2 separate regions of the Homo sapiens genome follow, and region 1 is linked to region 2. Evidence: fine-mapped expression QTL. A gene starts in region 2. The other region holds a variant in brackets. All regions are shown on one strand. Distances are from middle to middle.

Evidence for each region. PIP is the estimated chance that this variant, and not a neighbour inherited with it, causes the effect.
Region 1: its variant is the best candidate, but not a certain one, in a credible set for the expression of QRICH2 in thyroid (GTEx, PIP 0.65).

What each region holds. Positions count from the first base shown.
Region 1 is chr17:76,327,498-76,339,262 of GRCh38, reverse strand. PRPSAP1 (phosphoribosyl pyrophosphate synthetase associated protein 1) reads left to right here. Exons shown (of 10, transcript NM_002766.3): 4 at 6,828-7,000; 5 at 8,597-8,712; 6 at 9,165-9,220; 7 at 10,401-10,546. It also overlaps the pseudogene RNU6-24P. Among named protein-coding and RNA genes, the nearest start is that of PRPSAP1, 21 kb to the left of the region's middle. The variant C/T (reference allele first, on the strand shown) is at 5,289.
Region 2 is chr17:76,304,644-76,316,350 of GRCh38, reverse strand. QRICH2 (glutamine rich 2) reads left to right here and starts at 8,075. Exons shown (of 19, transcript NM_001388453.1): 1 at 8,075-8,886; 2 at 11,410-11,469. The coding sequence starts at 8,353. PRPSAP1 (phosphoribosyl pyrophosphate synthetase associated protein 1) reads left to right here. Exons shown (of 10, transcript NM_002766.3): 8 at 2,460-2,530; 9 at 3,335-3,481; 10 at 4,651-6,873. The coding sequence ends at 4,809.

The DNA of each region.
Region 1 (11,765 bases), 23 kb before region 2:
CAGCTGATTTTTGTATTTTTAGTAGAGACGGGGTTTCACAGTGTTGACCAGAATGGTCTCAAACTCCTGACCTCAGGTGATCCACCCGCCTTGGCCTCCCAAAGTGCTGAGATTATAGACGTGAGCCACCGTGCCCAGTCAATAAACTAGTTTTTGTAGTGCTTGAGTACTGGATACTTTAGTACCAACTAAAGAACACAGATAATTTAATTTAATTTAATTTTTTTTTTGAGACGAGTTTCTTTCTTGTTGCCCAGGCTGGAGTGCAGTGGTGTGACCTTGGCTCACTGCAACCTCCACTTTCCAGGTTCAAGTGATTCTCCTGCCTGAGCCTCCCGAGTAGCTGGGATTACTGGCATGTACCACCATGCCTGGCTAATTTTGTATTTTTAGTAGAGATGGGGTTTTACCATGTTGGCCAGGCTGGTTTTGAACCCCTGACCTCAGGTGATCCATCCACCTCGGCCTCCCAAAGTCCTGGGATTACAGGCATGAGCCACCATGCCTGGCCTAATTTTTTATTTTATTTTATATTTTATATTTTATTTTATTTATTTTTTGAGACGGAGTCTTGCTGTGTTGCCCAGGTTGGAGTGCAGTGGCACAATCTCGGCTTACTGCAACTTCTGCCTCCTGGGTTCAAGCAATTCTCCTGTCTCAGCTTCCTGAGTAGCTGGGATTACAGGTGCACACCACCACACCCAGCTAATTTTTGTATTTTTAGTAGAGATGGGGTTTCTCCATGTTGCCTAGGCTGGTCTCGAACTCCTGACCTTAGGTGATTCACCTGCCTCAGCCTCCCAGAATGTTAGGATTACAGGCATGAGCCACTGTGCCCGACCTGGTTTTTTAATATTATCTGCGGTTACATAGATGAAGGAATATCTTTTACAGGTTTTTCTGTTGTTGGGAGGAAGGGGGCATTGCCTAAAGTAATAAGGCTAATTTTAGGCAAACAGACCAAAGCTTAGACATTAAAATAAGCTTAGTTGCCTTCAGAGCTGTTGTTCTAAAATCACATAGATACCTTTTTTTGGTGCTGTTTTTGCTTGGAATAGCTTTGGAACTACTGCTTCCAAACTTGCAGCATATTTCTTTTGACTGTTCTAATAATAGCAACCTTTTGGTCGTTGAGGATAGGTTTAATTTTTGGAAATGGCAAAAAGCCATTCAGAACAAAATGATTATTTTGGGTAATTGAACTGTGCGATACTCAGAGATTTTCCAGATATACCAAGCAATGGAACTAAGTAAAATATGAAGCTTATGAAGTATATTTTAAAGGTTAATTTTTATGTTTATGTACAAGTTCTAGTGTGTTGATGTAAAGTAAGCAGACTCATTAAAATAACATTTACAGCTGGGCACGGTGGCTCACACCTGTAATCCCAGCACTTTGGGAGGCCGAGGCAGGTGGATCAGTTGGTCAGGAGTTTGAGACCAGACTAGCCAACATGGTGAAACCCCGTCTCTACTAAAAATACAAAAAATTAACCAGGCATGGTGGCAGGTGCCTGTAATCCCAGATATTCGGAAGGCTGAGGTGGGAGAATCGATTGAACCCGGAAGGCAGAGGTTGCAGTGAGCCAAGATGGTGCTACTGCACTCTCGCCTTCCAGCCTGGGTGACAGAGTGACTCAGTCTCAAAACAACAACAAAAAATTCCCAGCTGCTGCAGATGATTAATTGTTACAGTTGGGAGCAGGGTAAATTCTCCCCCATTACTTCCAGCTGTGGTGTGGTTTCTCTTTTTGCGAGCCTGGCTAGTTTAATGAATGCGTATACCATGCCTGTTTCCTCATCTCAGGTTAGTTTGTTGTTGTTGTTGTTGTTGTTGTTTTCCAATATGGAACACTTCACGAATTTGCGTGTCATCCTTGCACAGGGGCCATGCTAATCTTCTCTGTATCATTCCAATTTTAGTATATGTGCTGCTGAAGAGAGCACACCTCAGGTTAGTTTTTGCCTGTCCAAAATGCTAGAGCAGTAAGGGCTGGACTTAATATAGGATGTGGTTTTCTTAGGGGAAAGAAAAGTAGTTGGTTGTCTGGGCATGATGGCTCAAGCTGTACTCCCAGCACTTTGGGAGGCCAAGGCGGGAGGATTGCCTGAGCCCAGGAGTACAAGACCAGCTGGGCAACATGGTGAGACCTTTCTCTATTTAAAAAAAAGAAAGAAAAGTAGTTGGTAAAACAATTAAGAATGTCCTACTTAGAGATAAAGACTACAAGAGCTAGCCAGGGTGTACTTGCAACATTCTTAGGGAACAGATAAAGCAGAGACTGCCAGCCGATTTCCCTTCGCCCTGCTAGTTCACAAAGTAACTGCCTGGTGTCCAATTTGTCCGGTATCTCTCAGTGAATGGGTAAAGCCAATGTGACAAAGCCCCTTTTGTCACCTTTCTGACCAATAAGGGGTGAGGTATGGAGCTTTCTTTAGCGTTGGGCTGGAGGATGTTGAATCCCTTGGAAAAATGGAAAATAAAAACCTCATGGGAAATTGCTCTTTTTTTTTTTTTTTTTTTTTTTTTGAGATGGAGTTTCACTCTTGTTGCCCAGGCTGGAGTGCAATGGCATGATCTCGGCTCACCACAACCTCCACCTCCCAGGTTCAAGCTATTCTCCTGCCTCAGCCTCCTGAGTAACTGGGATTACAGGCATGCACCACCATGCCTGGCTAATTTTGTATTTTTAGTTGAGACGGGGGTTTCTCCATGTTGGTCAGGCTGGTCTCGAACTCCCGACCCAGGTAATCCACCTGCCTCGGCCTCCCAAAGTGCTGGGATTACAGGTGTGAGCCACCGTGCCTGGCCTTTTTTTTTTTTTGAGAAAGATTCTCGCTCTGTAGCCCAAGCTGGAGTGCAGTGGTATGATGTCGGCTCACTACAACCTCTGCCTCCCAGGTTCAAGCAATTCTTCTGCCTCAGCCTCCCAAGTAGCTGGGATTACAGGCACCTGCAACCATGCCCGGCTAAGTTTTGAATTTTTAGTAGAGACGGGCTTTCACCATGTTGGTTAGGCTGGTCTCTAACTCCTGACCTCAGGTGATCCACCTGTCTTGGCCTCTCGGATTACTGGCGTGAGCCACCGCGTCCGGCCCAGAAATTGCTTATTAATGAAAGGAATGTTACCCTGAAATCAAGACTTCTCAAAAATTGTTTATCTTGTTCATTAATGTTTTATTATCTGGGCCTCCCTTGTGCTGTGTTCTCCAAAACTCATGGTGTCATACACTTGTGTATTTTACTTGATTTTGTTTTTATTTTTTTGTGTGTTTTTTGAGAGATGGGGTCTCACTCTGTTGCCCAGGTTGGAGTGCAGTGGTGCAGTCACAGCTCATTATATGGGTTTGAGGGATCCTCCCACCTCAGCCTCCCGAATAGCTAGGACTACAGGTGAGCACCACCGTGCCTGGCTGATTTTTAAATTTTATTTTATTTTTAGAGACCAGGTCTTGCTATGTTGCCCAGGCTGGTATCAAACTCCTGGCTTCAAGCAATACTCCTGCCTTGGCCTCTCAAAGTGCTGGGATTACAAGCATAAACTACTGCACTTGGTCCACTTGTGTATTGTCTATGACAAAGCCAGCTAAAAACCCACTACTTGAGCCTGGGTGTGGTGGCTCACACCTGTAATCCCAACACACTTTGGGAGGCCGAGGCGGTTGGATCACCTGAGGTCAGGAGTTAAGACCAGCCTGGCCAACATGGTGAAACCCCATCTCTACTAAAAATACAAAAATTAGCTGGGCATGGTGGTGGGTGCCTGTAATCCCCGCTACTTGAGAGGCTGAGGCAGGAGAATTGCTTGAACCCAGGAGGCAGAGGTTGCAGTGAGCTGAGATCGCACCATTACACTCCAGCCTGGGTGACAAAAACGAATTTCCATCTCCAAAACAAAACAAAAAACAAAAAAAACCTCACTACTTGAACAGATAACGCTTACAGAAGCTACTAAATTAACTGACTCCAAACATATTGTGGATATTGGGTTCTGGTTTATGAAGCCACAGCCAGCCTGGGTGTGGTGGCTCATGCCTGTAATCCCAGCACTTTGGGAGGCTGAGATGGGAAGATTGCATGAACCCAGGAGTTCAAGACCAGCCATGGCAACATAGTGAGACCCTGCCTCTTACAAAACAGAAAAGAAAAGAAAAAAAATCTTTTAAACAAAAGAGTCTCTGGGAAGGGGACCACACATTCTTCCATGAGTCAGATGTGCTCCTTCTTGGGAAGAATGAGTACCTCGAGAGTGGTCCCAGATGGCCTTTGGCTTTCTCTAGAGGTGGTTTGCCTTGTTTACCTACCACAGTGCTTGCCTCAAGTTGCCCCCTAAATATGTGTTGCATGGATGATGAACTAAAATTGACTATTATGAATTCCCAACTTTCTTGAAAGTGTTTGATAATTGCTTTGATTCTACCAAAGATTATCTGACCTTTTGATGCCAGACTTGGCATTATTAATTTGGAAGTCTGAAGGAGAAAAATGCTCCAATTTATTGAGAGAAAAAATAAAAGGTAACTGGAAAACAATGGAATGGATTAGCAGTCTAAAAGGAATGTCTTAGTTGTCTTGAAGTTGAGCCCTGCATCAGTCTCCTCAGGGAGACATTTTTTGTTTTTGTTTTTGTTTTTTTTAATCATAGAATGCTTGCAATAGTTAAGAAAAATCCAAATTACAAGGGTGAAATTGGAAGTTCCAGGAATTGAACCTGGAAGTGGAAAACATTGTCAGAATAAAAGGATGTCTTTGAAATCGCTCACTCCCAAATGCACTCTGCCTTAGAGAGAAGTGTAAACATAAATTGGAAGAGACTGGAAGGAAATGGCTCGATTACCCTTCAAGCTAGAAAGCATCTCTTGCTGAGTATTTCATTCAGCCACCTATTCAGCAAACGCTAACTCTGCTGTGTGTATGGCAGGCTTTCTGCTTTGCTGTAATGAGGGCAGCATCACCTACGTGTCAGTGTAGAGCTGATAATTGTTCAAGAACTGGTACCTGAAGAACCTGCTGCCATGGGTAGGAACTGATGACGTGGGGAAGGGAAGGGAGATACAGTCCTGACCCCCACCCCCACCCCAAGACGGGGATGTTTGAGGATGCGTGGATAGTCCAGGAAGAGCAGGAGGAAGCTAATGTGAGAAGTGAATACTGAGAGAGGTCCTGGAAGGATTTCAAGGCTCTCACCCCTTTTTAAAGGAAGAGCCTGTCTGGGAATGGTGGCGCATGCCTGTAATCCCAGTGCTTTGATAGGCTGAGGCGGGAGCATCACTTGAGCCCGGGAGTT[C/T]GAGGCTGCAGTGAGCTAAGATTGTACCACTGCACTCTAGCCTGGGTGACAGGGTGAGACCATTTCTTAATAAGTGAGTGAGTGAGTAAGTGAAAGAAAGAATGAATGAATGAATGAATGAATGCAGAGTCTACATTAGGTTTGATTATCCTTGGCAAAAGCTAGCAATCCAAATTTATAATCATTGGAAATTGCCTTTCCTTCTAATATCTTCCAGATTCATATTTCATTTTTTGTCTCTCTGGGTAATCTTTGTCAGGAATTTATATGTCAGGGAAAGAAAGGTCCAGGGAGGTTTTTTTTTGTTTGTTTTGTTTTGTTTTGTTTTTTGAGACAGAGCCTCACTCTGTTGCCCAGGCTGGAGTGCAGTGGCATGATCTCGGCTCACTGCAACCTCTGCCTCCCAGGTTCAAGAGATTCTCCTGCCTCAGCCTCCCCAGTAGCTGGGACTACAGGCACGTGCCACCACACCTGGCTAATTTTTGTATTTTTAGTAGAGACAAGGTTTCACCATATTGGCTGGGCTGCGTCCAGCCTCCAGGGAGGTTTTCGAAAATTAAGTTCCAGCTGGGTATAGTGGGTCATGCCTGTAATCCCAGCACTTTGGGAGGCCGAGGTGGGCGGATCACCTAAGGTCGGGAGTTCGAGACCAGCCTGACCAACATGGAGAAACCCCGTTTCTACTAAAAATACAAAATTAGCCACGTGTGGTGGTGCACGCCTATAATCCCAGTTACTCGGGAGGATGAGCCAGGAGAATTGCCTGAACCTGGGAGGCGGAGGTTGCAGTGAACTGAGATCACACCACTGCAGTCCAGCCTGGGCGACAGAGTGAGACTTCATCTCAAAAGGTCAGGAGATGAAGACCATCCTGGCTAACATGGTGAAACCCCGTCTCTACTAAAAATACAAAAAATTAGCCGGGCGAGGTGGCGGGCGCCTGTAGTCCCAGCTACTCGGGAGGCTGAGGCAGGAGAATGGCGTGAACCTCGGGGGGCGGAGCCTGCAGTGAGCTGAGATCGCGCCACTGCACTCCAACCTGGGCGACAGCGAGACTCCGTCTCAAAAAAAAAAAAAAAAAATTATATTCCAAGACCTCCCCACACTCAATGGAAAGAGACCAAATCTTTCTGTTAATGGCAGCTAAATGGAAGGGCAGTTGGGTTTCCCTTGGCATTCAAGCTGGCCTAAGCCCAAATCCCTGGGAGGCTGCCAGCAGGTGTTGGGTAACTCTGGTCACCAGCAGTTGCTTCAGATGTCACTGCAGTAACGGGGTATGACACAGGAGACCCAGGCAAATGTGAGGGTGGGTTAACTGTGCTGTGAATAGGAGTAACCTCAGATGAAAGCTAGGGCTTACTCAGCTACAAAAAGTCAGAAAGCTTCCCCTGCCTTCATGAGGTGCCATTGTAAGCTAGTGTGATGGTAAAATTCCCACAACACCCATCTGGGCAGCCCATGTTAAGTTGATAAAGTCAAGATCTTTTCTAGGGTTGATACATGGAATTAATCCCCAAATACAAACTTTGACTGTTTCAGAGATGTGAATACAGCTGTGATGGAGTTGCTCATCATGGCTTACGCACTGAAGACTGCCTGTGCCAGGAACATTATTGGGGTCATCCCCTACTTCCCCTACAGCAAGCAGAGCAAGATGAGGAAGAGGGGTTCCATTGTGTGCAAGCTGCTAGCATCCATGCTGGCGAAAGCAGGTGAGTGTGCGCGGGGGCCCTGGGGTTCCAGCATGATCCTTTAGGGCTCTTTCCTAGTTGGACTTAGCTCATACCTCAGATATCCAATCTGGGATCTGAGTGTTTGTTTCCTTTTGAACAGTTTTGGCTAAGGATATGTGAGCTCGGTTAGAAATTCTTTTTTTTCCCTTATTCGCTTTGTCCTACTTTAGAATACCATTGCTTTAGTGTCTTCTCTTCTCTGTCATCTGTCACATATTTTCTATTTCATCTTGTCATCGCTAAATTCTTAGCTGGCAGTCTTGGCATTCTTATGTGATCTTTTGATCTTCAGGTCTAGATTTCTATATCTGCTTTGTTAGCTAAATTCCATTTTTGTTCATAGTATTCAAGCTGGATTTTCTTTTACTCCCTCTCCCCCACCCTTGCCTTTCTACATAGTGGCTCATTTTCATTGCTTTATTCTCCTTGTGTGGCGGGGGCACGCTTTCTGGCCTGTAAATCAATGTAATATTTTACAATTGGGTTTCTATTCATCTGATGTCTGTTCTAAAACTTTAACGTATATTTGGGTCCTCGGAAAGAAATGTATGGTCCTCCCTCAATGTCCTTATAGGATTGGTTCCAGGAACCCATCTCCCGCTTCCCCGGCTCCTCAGCAGATACAAAAACCCAAAGATACTCAAGTCTTCCATATAAAATGCCATAGTATTTGCATATAACCAACACAGTCATCTGTAGATTATTTATAAATACCTAATACCATATAAACACTATATAAATTGTTGTTATGCTGTCTTGTTTAGGGAATAATGATGAGAAAAAAGTTTCATACCTGCTCAGTACAGACACAACCATTGTAGGCCTAACTACCTTTTCAGTCTGTGTTTCGTTGAATCCACACGTGGAACCCATAGATCCAGATGGTCAACTGTATGTGAATTTCATCCTCTCCAAAAAACTATAGTGTTTCTGGAAAGAACAAGTAATACTGGTTCTACACCCTGGAAGTTTTGCTGTGACCTTTGACCATTTGCAATGTGTTTATATATATGTACCTTTTCCTCTTCAGTACTCTTGATTATAAGAGTATCTCTTCATTGTTTTTCTATAAGAATACTTGAAACATTCTTTGTTACATACAGAAATTATTCTAAGCTTCAATATCTTTGTGTTATATGAGTTTCTTTTCTTCTAATATGTATATTACTTTGCGTTTGTGTTCTTGCTACTTTTTGCCTTCGCTACAGTTCTTTATCCTTTCTTTTAAGATTCTGTAATCAAGGCCTTACTGTTTTTTCCATCTCTTCGGTATTAATTCCATATTCATATTTTTGCTTCTGCCACATTATTCTTTTCTCAATTTTCTGGACCAAGCCAAAAGTCAATAATTCCCACTTTCTTAGCTTTAGTTCTTTGTCCATGTGGAAGGTTGTAGCCTTCTCTACATTAAGGCTTTATTAAGGTTAACAATCAAGCCTGTGACTGCAGTGCTTAATCACAGTACCCCGTCTTCAGTCTGCTGGTAGGAAGCAGGAGTTGAGCATCTAGTTTAGGTCCACTGTAGCCATTTACCTGTAGGGGTGAACTTTGTAATTTTTTGTTTTAAAATTTCAGGTTTAACTCACATTATCACTATGGATCTTCATCAAAAGGAAATACAAGGCTTTTTCAGCTTTCCTGTGGACAACCTTAGAGCCTCACCTTTCCTGCTTCAGTATATCCAGGAAGAAGTGAGGAACCACCAGCAAACACCCCATTGTCCTCAAAAGAGATCTTATTTAGTTTTTCTCTGGTATCAGATTTCGTTACTGGAAGGCACATCAAATGAGCTCTCCCTTAAGTCACAATGCCTGAGGCAGCAGACAGGGTCAGCTTTAGTCGTGGACGATCATAGCTTTAAAAGACACTAAAAACAGATTTTTTTTCTACGTATCTTTAGCAATTTGCTTATGTTTTCTAAAATGAATGTTTTAAGAATTATTTTTAAAAAATTCTTGACGTAGGAGTGCTTTTTCCAGTGATGTTAATTGATAAATATTGAAAAATCTAAAACTTGTGACTAAAATTCTAGCATATTTGATGACTAGTTTGGATCATTATAAGAGGGAAAACTTGAATACCAGCATCCAGGTGTTATTTTCTGATAACTTTTCAGTATTTTCTATTTTTCCTTCAAATCTAGATTCCAAATTACAGAAATGCAGTCATTGTAGCTAAGTCTCCTGATGCTGCAAAGAGGTAAGTAAGCTAGACATGGGTCCTGATCCCTCCTGAGTGCTCCCGAAGTCAGAATGAGCTGCTTTGGAATCCAGAGGCTGTCACTCGTGGCCTTTGAAAGCCCACTGGCTCTCATGTTAACCCCTCCATCGTTGTCATGTCCCATGCCACACACAGCTTTATCTCCAGCCTCCAGACAGCACACATGATCGCTGAGTTGCTCAGCTTTCCTCTGGGAAAACAAAGTTCCTTCAAGTTCTCAGAGAAAGGAAAGCAATGAGGCTATGAGCATTTTTCAAGCAATGGTTTTTTTTTTTGTTTTTTTTTTGAAATGGAGTTTCATTCTGTCACCTAGGCTGGAGTGCAATGGCGCGATCTCGGCTCACTGCAACCTCCGCCTCCTGGGTTCAAGCAGCTCTCCTGCCTCAGCCTCCCCAGTAGCTGGGATTACAGGCGCCTGTCACCACTCCTGGCTAGTTTTTTGTATTTTTAGTAGAGATGGGGTTTCACCATGTTCATCAGACTAGTCTTGAACTCCTGACCTCAAGTGATCTGTCTGCCTTGGTCTCCCAAAGTGCTGGGTTTACAGGCGTAAGCCACTGTGCCCGGCCCAGGCAATGGTTTTTAACGTTGTTCTTTCTTCTGAAGATGACTATCAGAATATTGGACAAAGGATAGAATCAAAATTATCTAGAATCAGGGCCAGGCGGGGTGGCTCACGCCTGTAATTCCAGCACTTTGGGAGGCCAAAGCGGGAGATCGCTTGAGCCCAGGGGTTCAAGACCAGCCTGGGCAACATAGACCCCGTCTCTACAAAATACAAAAAATAGCCAGTTGTGGCAACACATGCCTGTGGTCCCCGCTACTCGGGAGGTTGAGGTGGGAGGATCACCTGAGCCTCAGGAGGTTGAGGCTGCAGTGAGCCATGTTGACGCCACTGCACTCCAGCCTGGGTGACAGTGAGACCTTGTCTCAAAAAAAAAAAAAAATGTCTAGAATCAGATACAATCCCAAACCCTAACTCACGTGCCCTTTGAGTCATTTACATGCTGGCCTGGGCCTCACATTCTCATTTATATAAATAATGCCTTTGTATGTCCCTGAAACGTTAAATATTTTCATTTTATGGTTAAAAAATGATGCCGTAGTGATGCGTGGGATTTCTTCCTGTCAGTTTCACCATTTCCCTTTGTCCTTCTAGGGCCCAGTCCTATGCGGAGAGACTGCGTCTGGGTTTGGCCGTCATTCACGGGGAAGCTCAGTGCACGGAACTGGACATGGACGATGGTCGTCACTCCCCGCCTATGGTCAAAAATGCTACTGTGCACCCAGGCCTGGAGTTGCCATGTAAGATGAGCTCTGTGTTTTTATTTTATTTGTAAATTGAAGAAAGTTTTTTTTTGTTGGTTTTGTTGGTTTTGTTGTTGTTGTTTTGTTTTGTTTTGTTTTGTTTTTGAGATGGAGTCTCACTCTGTCACCCAGGCTAGAGTGCAGTGGCGTGATCTTGGCTGACTGCAACCTCTGCCTCCTGGGTTCAAGCAATTCTCCTGCCTCAGCCTCGTGAGTGGCAAAGATTACAGGTGTGTGCCACCACGCCCAGCTAATTTTTGTATTTTTAGTAGAGACAGGGTTTCACCATGTTGGCCAGGCTGGTCTCAAACTCCAGACCTCGTGATCTGCTCCAGACCTGGTGATCTGCTCGCCTCAGCCTCCCAGAGTGCTGGGATTACAGGCATGAGCCACTGCACCTGGCCCTGAAGAAAGTTTTAAGTAGTATGAATGGCTAGGAGTTATCGACTATGTAGATATATGCTGTCTTGTTGTTTTTTAATAATGGAATGGTATTTGCTATCCTCCGCCTTTTTTTTTTTTTTTTTGAGAAAGGATCTCCCCCTGTTGCTCTGTACAGTGGCACAGTCATGGCTCACTGCAGCCTTGACCGGGGCGCAAGTGATTCTCCCACCTCCGCCTCCTGGGTAGCTGGGACTGTAGGGGTACACTACCATGCCTGGATAGTTTTCTGTTCCTTTTTTTTTCTTTTTGTATGGAGACGGGGCTCCCTGCATTGCCCAGGCTGGTTTTGAACTTCTTTGCTCAAACAATCCTCCTGTCATGGTCTCCCAAAATGCCGAGATTACATAAGATTACAGACATGAGCCCCATGCCAGGCCCGATTTCCTCTTTTGTAAAAGGAAGTTGTGTTATACACATTTGTAGACTGTGTATGGACGGTTCTGCGTAGCACTCAGCATTCAGACGGTGTTTGATAATTTTAGCTTCAGTAAAAAAGTTGTATGTGTGATGGTGTGAAATCTTAAGCTTTTACATTATCATAAGCTGGGTGACAGCTGTTGATCAAATACCAGGCTTTGGGGATCAGGTAACTTTTATTTTTACTTATTTATTTATTTTGAGATGGAGTCTCACTCTGTCGCCAGGCTGGAGTGCAGTGGTGCAATCTTGGCTCACTGCAACCTCTTCCTCCCGGGTTCAAGCAATTCTCCTGCCTCAGCCTCTCCAGTGGCTGGGGCTATAGGTGCGCGCCAACACGCCGAGCTAATTTTTG
Region 2 (11,707 bases):
CTAGGTTTTTCATGCGAAACTAACAGTAGTTCTTTGTGGGAGGTAGGGTTGCAAAAAAGTAAACAAATATACTGTGATGTTTTCCGCATCAAACTAGAGCTGAATTTCCATTGATATTTGATGAGAGGTATTGGCTTGCAATCTTTCTTTTTTTTTTTCTTTTTTTTTTTTTTTTTAGACGGAGTCTCACTCTGTTGCCCAGGCTGGTGTGCAGTGGTGCGATCTCAATTCACTGCAACCTTTGCCTCCTGGGTTCAAGCAAGTCTTGTTTCAGTCTCCTGAGTAGCTAGGATTACAGGCGTGTGCCACCATGCCTGGCTAATTTTTATATTTTTAGTAGAGACAGAGTTTCACCATGTTGGCCAGGCTGGTCTTGAACTCCTGACCTCAGGTGATCCGCCTGCCTTGGCCTCTCAAAGGTGGCCTGGCCAACGTGGTGAAACCCCACCTCTGCTAAAAATACAAAAAATTAGCCAGATGTGGTGGCACGTGCCTGTAATCCCAGCTACTTAGGAGGCTGAAGCAGGAGAATCGCTTGAGCCCAGGAGGCAGAGGTTGCAGTGAGCCGAGATCGTGCCACTGCACTCCAGCCTGGGAGACAGAGTGAGACTCTGTCTCAAGAAAAAAAAAAAAAAAAAAAAAAAAAAAAAGCGGATAGGTCAACATAACTGCGTGTTTACATGGTTTAATTTAAAAACAGAATCTCAGGAAGCTGCTCCTAATGTTGGTGGTTTGAAACCCCCCTCCCCCCATTTTAAGTGATTTTATATGCAAAGCCTTCTTGTCTTGCCCAAATTCAAGAAGTTGTCTTTGTTTCTAGGATGTGAAATCAGGAAATATATGTTTGTTGAAATGTATAAAGTAGTGGTGAATTTCAGCTCAACTGATTTGCCAGTATACAGAGAAAAACACCTGTTCTTTGAGATACACAGTGCCTGTTGGGAATCTGCAAAAATTGTTTGTTGGTAGTCACTAAACTCTTGTTACCCTGAATTTTATTCTCTTTCGCTTCCCCCACTACTAGCCTAATAAATATTTCAGAATAATAACAAAGTTTAAAGAAAGAATACTTAGCCTGTTCTTCTGAAGTAGTCTTTGTTTTTCTTCTCTGTTTACTAACCTCCTTTTGAGGATAAAATCTTATTTCCTTTCTTTATCCTGTAGTTTCCTTTGTACACTCATAGCCTTTCTTCAGATGCAGATTTTGCAGTCAGATAAAAGTCTCTACTTTAAGCACCAATTAAATCAGGAAAAGATGATGGGCCTGGAGTTATTGTCTTCAAGTTCCTGATTTTGAGGAAACTCTGATTATGTCAGTAGTGCAGTTATCTGATAGTAAGGTTACACTGTCCAAATAAGGTGACTTTGGAAGAAAATAACATAAAGCCATCTCATGATCTGGCAGCCTTTCGCTGTTTCGCTTTCTGCAGAGCGGCATTCCTTCTGCATGTCTCTGTCAGTCTCTGTGAGAGTGGGGTTTCTATCCACACAGCACTGCGGTGCAGCTTCTCCGTGTTGGCAGAATCTTCCATGCTCTGCTGGTTCGTTGTCTTTCCAGCTGTGCTGTGCAGTGCAATGTGCTGGCTGCTGAGCTCATGAGACACGGCCCGTCTCAACTGAGAAGTGCTGTGCGTATAAAACACACACCAAGTAGAGAAGACTTGATAGGAAAAAAGTGTAAGGCTGGGTGCGGTGGCTCATGCCTATAATCCTAGCACTTTGGGAGGCTGAGGTAGGAGGATTGTTTGCTTCCAGTTTGAAATGAGCCGGGGCAACATAGCAAGATCCCCTCTGAGAAAAAAAAGTGTAAAACATCTCATTAATTTTTATATCAGGTTGGGCGTGGTGGCTCAAGCTTGTAATCCCAGCACTTTGGGAGGCTGAGGCGGGTGGATCACCTGAGGTCAGGAGTTCGAGACCAGCCTGACCAACGTGGAGAAACCCCATCTCTACTAAAAATACAAAACTCAGCTGGGTGTGGTGGCGCATGCCTATAATCCCAGCTACTCGGGAGGCTGAGGCAGAATTGCTTGAACCTGGGAGGCGGAGGTTGCAGTGAGCCAAGATCGCGTCATTGCACTCCAGCCTGGGCAACAAGAGCAAAACTCCGTCTCAAAAAATACATACATACATACATACATACATACATTTTTATATCAGTTACATGTTGAAATTATAATATTTTGGGAATTGCATAAAATAAAATGTATTAATTTCATCTGTTTTTAATGTGGCTACTAGAAAATTCAAAGTAACATGTATGGCATGCCTTCTATTTCTTTTGGCCAATGCTGCTGTTTCTGAGAGATTGCAGGTTCATTGAGGGGGAATTTGCATGGTTTGTTTGTTTTTTGTCTGTATAGTGGTTTTGCCACCATTTCCAGGGAATTAGGTTGTGATTACATTTCTCTAGTGATACATGAATGACTGAGATCTTGTAATTTGTTTTGTTTTGCTAGTGATGATGGCCAAAGAGAAGCCACCGATAACTGTAGTTGGAGATGTTGGAGGCCGCATCGCAATCATCGTGGTATGGTTATATGTCATCCATGTGCAGAGGTGGCACTCCTGGCTCTTGGTCAGTAGGTTGTCCACTCTGGGACTGTATTTCTAGGAACGATGATCCGAATGGATCCATGTATCCTTTCTCACCCAAACTCCCTTGTGCCAAGTGGCAGAAACCTGTATCCAGGTGAACATACATTAAAGTATAACCTACAGATAGGAAATGAGCACAGTACTCCCGTGAGAAAATTCAGCACCTTCACCTTCATCATGTGGATTCTAGGTTCTTTAAACCAGCTCACCTAATCATGCTTGAGCGTTAGGGCCGAAAGATGAACTGAAGATGAGCTGTTCCGTTTTCACAAGTAAGAATGGGTGTCCCCGTGCAGACTCGTTCTGCATGTTGACATACTTTTTTTCCCAGCTCTAAATATCTGCTGGCTAGTGGGTCATGAGTCCTTTGCAGTAGCACACTTTATTTCAGTTTTCTTCTCATGTCACAGTCTATTTGAAAAAAAAATAAATGGAACGCTGGCTATGTGGGATTCACCAGAAACGTGAGACAGGAAAATGAGTGTTGGCAATCCTCAGCTCCAGCCGTAATGTCACAGGTGCTTGACTGCGCCCGCCTCTGACAGACACACAAGGTACTGTCAGGTGCTTCTGTTGCCATTTCTGGATGCTCGTTCTTTGACCCAGGCACACAGCTCTGATTTTCCATCAGAAATCCTCTGAAACTGAGTGCAGAAGAGAGTAGAGTGGTGTGTGCATTGACAGTATGGGCTAGAGGGTGTTTCTTTCCTACCAACTCACTCTGTTCTCCTCCCAGGATGACATTATTGACGATGTGGAGAGTTTTGTTGCTGCCGCGGAGATCCTGAAAGAGAGAGGCGCCTATAAGATCTATGTTATGGCCACCCACGGCATCCTGTCTGCAGAGGCCCCTCGCCTGATTGAGGAGTCCTCCGTAGACGAGGTCAGGCTGCTTCTAAATCTTGAGCCAAGATTTACTGCTGTGTTTTCTGGGAATAATAAAATGATTCAGTCAATACTAAATTGCTTAATCTGTCTATAGCTTTTCTAGCTTTTGCTGGCTAGCAGTTCGTTGGGACAGATACATGTTTAGGAATACAGATAGTCCACGACTTACCATGGTTCAACTTAGAAGTTTTTGACTTTATGATGATGCAAAACCATTGCAATTACGATGTAATGTATAGTATTCGATAAATTACTTGAGACACTTTATTTTAAAATAATCGCTTTTATTATAAAATGAAAGCCTTTGCCCTAGATGATTTTGCCACCTGCAGTCTAATGTAACTGTTCTGGGCATGTTTAAGGTAGGGCTAGGCCAAGTTAATGATGTTTAGTAGGTTAGGCGTATTAAATGCTTTTTTTTTTTTTTGAGATGGAATCTTGCTCTGTTGCCTAGGCTGGGAGTGCAGTGTGGCAATCTCGGCTCACTGCAACCTCTGCCTCCCGGGTTCAAACGATTCTCCTGTCTCAGTCTCCCAAGTAACTGGGATTACACGCGCCGGCCACCAGGCCTAATTTTTGTGTTTTTCTTAGAAACGGGGTTTCACCATGTTGGCCAGGCTGGTCTCAAACTCCTGACCTCAGGTGATCCACCTGCCTCGGCCTCCCAAAGTGCTAGGATTACAAGCATGAGCCACTGTGCCCGGCCTAAATGCATTTTCTACTTAAAATATTTTCAACTTATAATGATGCGTTTATCCAGACATAACCCTGTCATAAGTTGAGAGTTATGTTGAGGGTCTGTATATGTCTATTTGCATAACGGTTTGCTTGGGTACTTTAATTTGACACCCTAGGAGCATTTCTCTTGAGGCTGGAATTCTTCCCTTATGATCTGAGAGTTTTGCATAGCACTGGGGCTCACTGTGTTTCTGCATGGAGACCATGCCATTCCTAAGATTTTTGTCTTGTGTTCTGAGGCCATGTAACTTTTCCTTTGCATAAAATTAGTTAATTTTGGTTTATAAAAACTATACTCGGTGGAACAAGGTTTTGTAGTTTGGAACTTAGGCTGTGGGAACTCAATGTTAGATAAGCTTTTCTGTGTAACCAGCTTGGAGAACAGACTTCAGTAACAGCGTTTGTTTTCCATCACTGTGTGACTAGGTGGTGGTGACGAATACTGTCCCTCATGAGGTTCAGAAGCTGCAATGTCCCAAGATAAAGACTGTGGATATCAGTTTGATTCTTTCTGAAGCCATTCGGAGAATCCACAATGGAGAGTCCATGGCCTACCTTTTCCGAAACATCACTGTGGATGACTAGCTTTCACGAGGGTCTCGACCCTGGACCTCCTGAGGGAAACATGGAAAAAGCAGTGCCATGAGTGATACAGTGTTTCCTTGCAAGGGAGGACTCGAAACAGCCTGGAGTTAGATATCTTCTTTTGCCCGGATTGATGGGGAGGAGGGATTAAAAGAGTCAGGAAGAAGACAGAGCTAATGGATAAATATCATAACATGGCCTTACATGTCTGCTGTCATCAGCCCTGTTCCTTAAAAGTTCTAGCTGCTTTCTTAAAAATAATCTGAAAATCTTATTGATACTAAAGAGGAGTTAAAGGCACATAAAGTCTTAACTCTATAATGTTCATTTAGTTGTTTCAGCTCCAGGGAAATGGAGGTATTGATGTTGAACCTGGTTAGGGAAGCTGAGCGCCTGTGGCCCTATTACTATCCAGTTGGCCTCTCCCAAATCAACTTCAAGTCTTTTATAGAGAATCGTATTTTTCTTTCAGAAATTGTTATGCCTACAGCCATTGAAAAATGAAGCATTCATGTTGTTACATCTTCCAAGGATGTCAGATTAGAAAATAGCATCCCACCTCTGGGTATCTGAGTGGCTCTGAAGTTGCAAATAAAATAATTTGTTGTCTTGCTAGTCTTTTCATTAGACAGCAGAAGACCATGGATACAGAACAGCAGTCAGGTCTGTGGCTGGACACAAACACTTTCCCAGGTTCCACCCTCTTCCTAAGTGTTGAAGCTAAATCCTTGTTGAATACTGTATTTTAAATCTTTAAAAAAAAAAAAAAAAAGTCTAGGTGTGGTGGCTCACACCTATAATCTGAGTACTTTGGGAGGCTGAGGCAAGGAGGATTGCTTGAGCCCAGGAGTTTCAGACCAGCCTGGGAAACATGGCGAAACCCCCATGTCTACAAAAAATACAAAAATTAGCCAGGCATTGGTAGCATGTGCCTGTAGTTCCAGCTACCTTGGGAGGCTGAGGTGGGAGGATTGCCTGAGCCAAGGAGGTTGAAGCTGCAGTGAACTATGATTGTACCACTGCCATCCATCCTGGGTGACAGAGCAACACCCTGTCTCAAAAAAAAAAAACAGGCCAGGGATCGTGTCTTATGCCTGTAATCCCTGCACTTTGGGAGGCCGAGGCAGGTAGATCACCTGAGGTCAGGAGTTTGAGACCAGCCTGGCCAACATGGCAAAACCCCGTCTCTACTAAAAATACAAAAATTAGCCTAGCTAAGTTAAAAGCATAAAAAGACTACAAAGAGGCCAGGCATCATGGCTCACGCCTGTAATCCCAGCACTTTGGGAGGCCGAGGTGGGCAGATCACTTGAGGTCAGGAGTTTGAGACCAGCCTGGCCAATATGGTGAAACCCTGTCCCTACTAAAAATACAAAAATTAGCCGGGTGTTGGGGGAGGGGGTGCACGCCTGTAATCCCAGCTACTCGGGAGGCTGAGGCAGGAGAATTAATTGGTTGAACCCAAGAGGCAGAGATTGCAGTGAGCTGAGATTGTGCCACTGCACTCCAGCCCAAGTGACAGAGCAAGATTCCATCTCAAAAAAAAAAAAAGACTGCAAAGAACTAGTTATTTTGATAACCCCTTAAAGGCCTACTGTGTCCCAAGTTATTGGAATATAATGATGATCGAAAATCCTTCAATTAAATAAACAGTACCTCTCAGGCTGAAGTGAAAAATCTGAACTTGAACAGTAGTTAAAATAGTACAGTTATTCCTTACAATCCATGGGTGATTGGTTCCAGGACTCAACCTCCTGCCCATGGATGTGCAAGTCCCTGATAGAAAATGGTGTAGTATCTGCATATAAGCTATGCACATCCTGGATGACTTGTAATACCTACTGCAATATCCTGTGTAGATGGTGGTCATGCTGTATTATTTAGAGAATCATGACAGGAATCTGTACGTGTTCAGTCGTGGTTGGTTAAATCTGCAGATGCAGAGCTCACGGAGGAGGCTGGCCATGCATGGCACACATTCATAGGTTCTCTTTAAGTAGCCTTGCTGTGCTTCTGTTAGGAAGTTTTATTTATACGTTTTTGGGAAGAATCTTGTATGGGGAAGTCATGTCTCAATTGTTAACACCAGATTTGTCTCGTGCTGTTTAATCCTGCTTTGTAATGAGCTCAAGCACAGGCGCTTGACCAGGTGAGTGGTTTCTTTTCTTTTCTTTTTTTTTTTTTTTGAGACAGAGTCTTGCACTGTCGCCCAGGCTGGGGTGCAGTGGTGCGATCTTGGCTCACTGCAACCTCTGCCTCCCGGGTTGACGCGATTCTCCTGCCTCAGCCTCCCGAGTAGCTGGGATTACAGATGCGCGGTACCATGCCCGGCTAATTTTTTGTATTTTTAGCAGAGGGGTTTCACTATGTTGGCTAGGCTGGCCTTGAACCCCTTACCTCAGGTGATCCACCCGCCTCGGCCTCCCAAAGTGCTGGGATTACAGGTGTGAGCCACCAAGCCTGGCCGTTTTTTTGAGATCAATTAATTTATGGCAGGCTGGGCGCGGTGGCTTACACCTGTAATCCCAGCACTTTGGGAGGCCGAGGTGGGTCGATCACTTGAGGTCGGGAGTTCAAGACCAGCCTGGCCAACATAGTGAAACCCCGTCTCTGCTAAAAATACAAAAAATTAGCCGGGCATGGTACCACGCATCTGTAATCCCAGCTACTCGGGAGGCTGAGGCAGGAGAATCATGTCAACCCGGGAGGCAGAGGTTGCAGTGAGCCGAGATCGTGCCATTGCACTACAGCCTGGGCGACAGAGCAAGACTCCCTCTCAAAAGTAAAAAAAAAATTATGGCAGCACAGAAAAGGGACAATTAGCCACCAGTTAGTCATCTAGTGGCTAATTGGAACTGCCTGAATAGTGAGTGGGTTGTCTTTTCCAAGTTGCTTCACCTTTGATTGAACAAAATATGTGGACTGTCTGAGGGGACCAGGGCCCCAGGACTGCATCCCTTAGACATGGGGCCATAGACATGGGGCCACCACTCTGGAATGGACGCAGCTGATGACACAAAGCATGGTTGCCAGGAAACCCTCAAGTCTTTCCTTATGTGGCCCCGCCAAGAGTGAGTGAATCCTGGCCTTTCTAGGTTAAGGGGATGGATGGAGTCTAGCTGGATCTTAGGAGGCCTCCTCAGCCCGTTGCCAAGGCTCCCCTTGTGATCCTTGTGGTGGCCTTTACTTCCCCCCGCCCCCGTGGCTCGCAGGGAGGCGTGTTGTTACGTGGAATCTTCAGGGCACGCGGGGGCCCCCACGTTTCAAACGTCCGCCGGCGCGGGGACTGGGAGTCCAGGGCTCCAGCTCGGGGACCCGAGGCCAGCGACAGACAGCGGAGGGGTGGCCATCGCGGACCCCGCCGGGGAGCGGAGGCGCAGATTCCCTGGAGGCAGGAGCTCTGTCCAGTGACTCGGCCGGACCCGGGGCAGGGGCGCCCCGAGGACCTCGCAGGGCCCCCGAAAGGCCCCAAGGCGCGGCGTGCAGTGAGCGGGAAGTGGTTGGCCGGCGCCCCGCGGCGGCGCACAGCTCCTGACAGCCACGATGCCGCCCGCGACCACGGTCTCCCTCCGGGAGCTGGCGGACCTCTCCATCGGCACGCCAGAGGTGGGCGCCGTCAACTTCACGGCCCTGCACACGCTCATCGTGGCCATGCTCAAGAACCTCGACCTCCAAAATACCCGGATCGACTTCCAGCCCTCGTCGCCCGAGCCCAGCCGCTCGCTGCAGTCCGTCCGGAGCTCGTTCAGCATCCCGCACCTGCCCGCGCCCAAGGAGGTGCCCAAGGGGGCGCCCCGGGAGAAGCGCAGGGGCGTGGGCCAGGCGCCTTCGTCAGCGCTGGAGAGCCAAGTGAAGGACCTGGGCGGCCAGGTGGAGGACCTGAGCAAGCAGCTCAAGCGTGTGGACGGCCAGGTGCAGGGCATCGCCACGCACGTGCAGCACTTCTCCCAGGCCAGCGGGCTTGACCTGGCCGCGCTAGAGTGGCCGGAGGAGCAGGAGGTGGGCGTGCGGGCGTTCGATAGGGTGCGGACTGGGAGTATCATGAAGGACGCCGCCGAGGAGCTCAGCTTTGCCAGGGTGAGCACGCACACGGAGGCACGCGCAGGCCGTCTGCCTCCTCCAGGCCGCCCTCCAGGCCTAGCCGAGTCCCCACCACCCTGGAGGGGTGAGCGGTGGTGGGGACGGAGGGGATGGGGACCGAGGAGGTGCCAGACCTCAGTGCGACTGGCTAAATAGAGTGGCCCATGCTCTACCTTGCAGTCCACGGGGCTGCAAGACGTGAAAATCCTAAAAGAACGCCACCAAAAGGCCTAGGGCCTCCCCGAGCTGGAGGGGCCTGGGGACCCCACCTCCTAAGTGTAGTGGCCCCATCCCACCCCCTCCTTCCTAGCCCCTGTTTACGGGAGAGGTTCGCCCACCACTTATCAGACATCCAAGGACCCAGAGCTGGCTCAGAGTGGGGCCGGCAACTTCTCAGAAGATTCTTAGAGTGAATTCCCTTTTTAAAATGAATAAGGACATGAAGAGATACGTGTTGAGGACAAAGGCTCCCAGAGAAGGGGAGTCAGGATGGAGAGTTGGACCTCAGCTTCCTATGGCCATGACACAAGCCACAGCAGGCAGGGGACCGTTTCACTTGGACTTTTTTTTTTTTTGAGAAGGAGTCTCACTCTATCACCCAGGCTGAAATGCAGTGGTGCAGTCTCGGCTCACTGCAACTTCCGCCTCCCAGACTCAAGCGATTCTCCTGCCTCAGCCTCCCGAGTAGCTGGGATTATAGGCGCGCGCCACCCCGCCTGGCTAATATTTGTGTTTTTAGTAGAGAAGGAGTTTCACCATGTTGGCGGGGCTGGTCTCAAACTCCTGACCTCAAGTGATCTGCCCGCCTCGGCCTCCCAAAGTGCTGGGCATTACAGGCGTGAGCCACTGAGCCCTGCCTTCAACTGGACTTTTGTTTTCTTGGAGGGACAAATGCATGTAATCATTGAGTATAAGTATTGTCCAGTGAACAGCAGGAAGCAACGCAGGTCAGCGCCAGGAGGTAATAGACACGTGCATGTCTCAGAGCCACCTTAGGTTGGTTCTGAAAGAAAAAGCAGAAGCAACTAGGAAGGCAGCTGGGTGGGGAGGCCAAGAGGAGAGACAGGAGGGGAAAAAGAGGCCGGGAAGAGGCAGGAAGAAGAGGCCAAGCCCCAGCAGGGGAGCCCTGGCCGCTCATGCCCTCCTGCCATATCACCCCAGGTCTCGAGACCGCAGCACCAACTCACTTTTGCTCTGGGAAGCATGTCTGCTTTCCTTTTCAAACTTTAAAGTGTGGTGGGGGTTTTTTTTGTTTTAATTTTTTTGGGTTTTTTTTTTTTTTTTTTTTTTTTTGAGACACATTCTCACTCTGTCACCCAGGCTGGAGTGCAGTGGTGCATTGTCGGCTCACTGCAACTCCATCTCCTGGGTTCAAGGAATTCTCCTGCCTCGGCTTCCCGAGTAGCTAGGATTATAGGTGCACACCACCATGCCCAGCTAACTTTTGTACTTTTAGTAGAGATGGGGTTTTGCCGTGTTGGCCAGGCTGGTCTCGAACTCCTGACCTAAAGTGATCCTCCTGCCTCGGCTTCCCAAAGTGTTGGGATTACAGGCAAGAGCCACTGCGCCTGGCCTTTTGTTTTAATTTTTACGTAATCTTAGATTCTAGAAGTTTGCAAAAGTTATAAAAAGTAACTTGTTTTATTTTTGTTTATTAATATATTTTTTCTTAATCCCAAATATGATAGCACCTTATGTTGTAGCGATTTGCTTTGGTTCTTTTGAGGTGCTTTTCTCTTTAGATAGCACAGATGTTCAGCTACTGTTGAGGTACCTGGCACCCTTCCTTCCTTGTAAGGCAAGGTGGGCCTCATCCTACAGGCTTTCACAAGTGGGTTGGAGCAAACTGAATCCCAGGACCAAAGGGTCCCATCCCTGCAGCAGCACTTACTCCTGCCATGCTACCAGCCAGGTCCCCCACTGCATCTCACTTCCCTTCCTGCACTTGGCTGGGAAAAGACCCAGGAGCCTGGGCTGACTGGCCAGGTAAAAACCAGGTAGAAAGCAGGGGCTCCTGCCTGTAATCTCAGCACTGTGGGAGGCCGAGGCTGGAGGATTGCTCGGACCCAGGAGTTCAAGACCAGCCTGGGCAACATTGCAAGATCTTATCTCTACAAAAAAATGTTTAAAATTAGCTGGATGTGGTGGTGCATGCCTGAAGTCCCAGCTACTCAGGAGGCTGAGGTGGGAGGATCGCTTGAGCCTGAGAGGTTGAGGCTGCAGTGAGCTGTGGTGGCATCACTGCACTGCAGCTTGGGTGACAGAGCAAGACCCTGTCTCAAAAAAAAAAAAAAAAGGAAACCAAAAAAACCCAAGTAGAAGAAGAAACCCTCCCTTTCCATAAGAGCCACACAAATTCCCCCTTTCCTCGTCTCCTGGCACTGAGTCAGTGTGTGAATGTGCGTGTATGCATGTGTGTGTCTGAGTGTGAGAGTGTGTGTGCGCATCTGTGTGTGTGTGCATGTGAGTGTGCGTGTGTAGGGGCCACTGTCATTCTCCTTTCCTGAACTCTTCTTCCAGGTACTTTTACAGCGGGTTGATGAACTAGAGAAGCTATTCAAAGATCGGGAGCAATTCCTGGTAATACCAGCCAGTTCCATGGGAAAGGGCTCTCCAGGGGGCTGGCCGTCTCTCAGTGTGGCCCTCTCTCCAGGGCTTGTCCATCCAGGGCAGGCAGTGTGTGCCCTCTGCCTCTCAAGTCTCTGCCCCAGGGTTGGAGGGAAATCTGCCCCAGCCCTGCCCAGCGCTCTGCTGGGTGCTCACATGGGACAGATAACTGGCTGCCCAACCTTCACTGGTCACTTGAAGGGTGATGAAT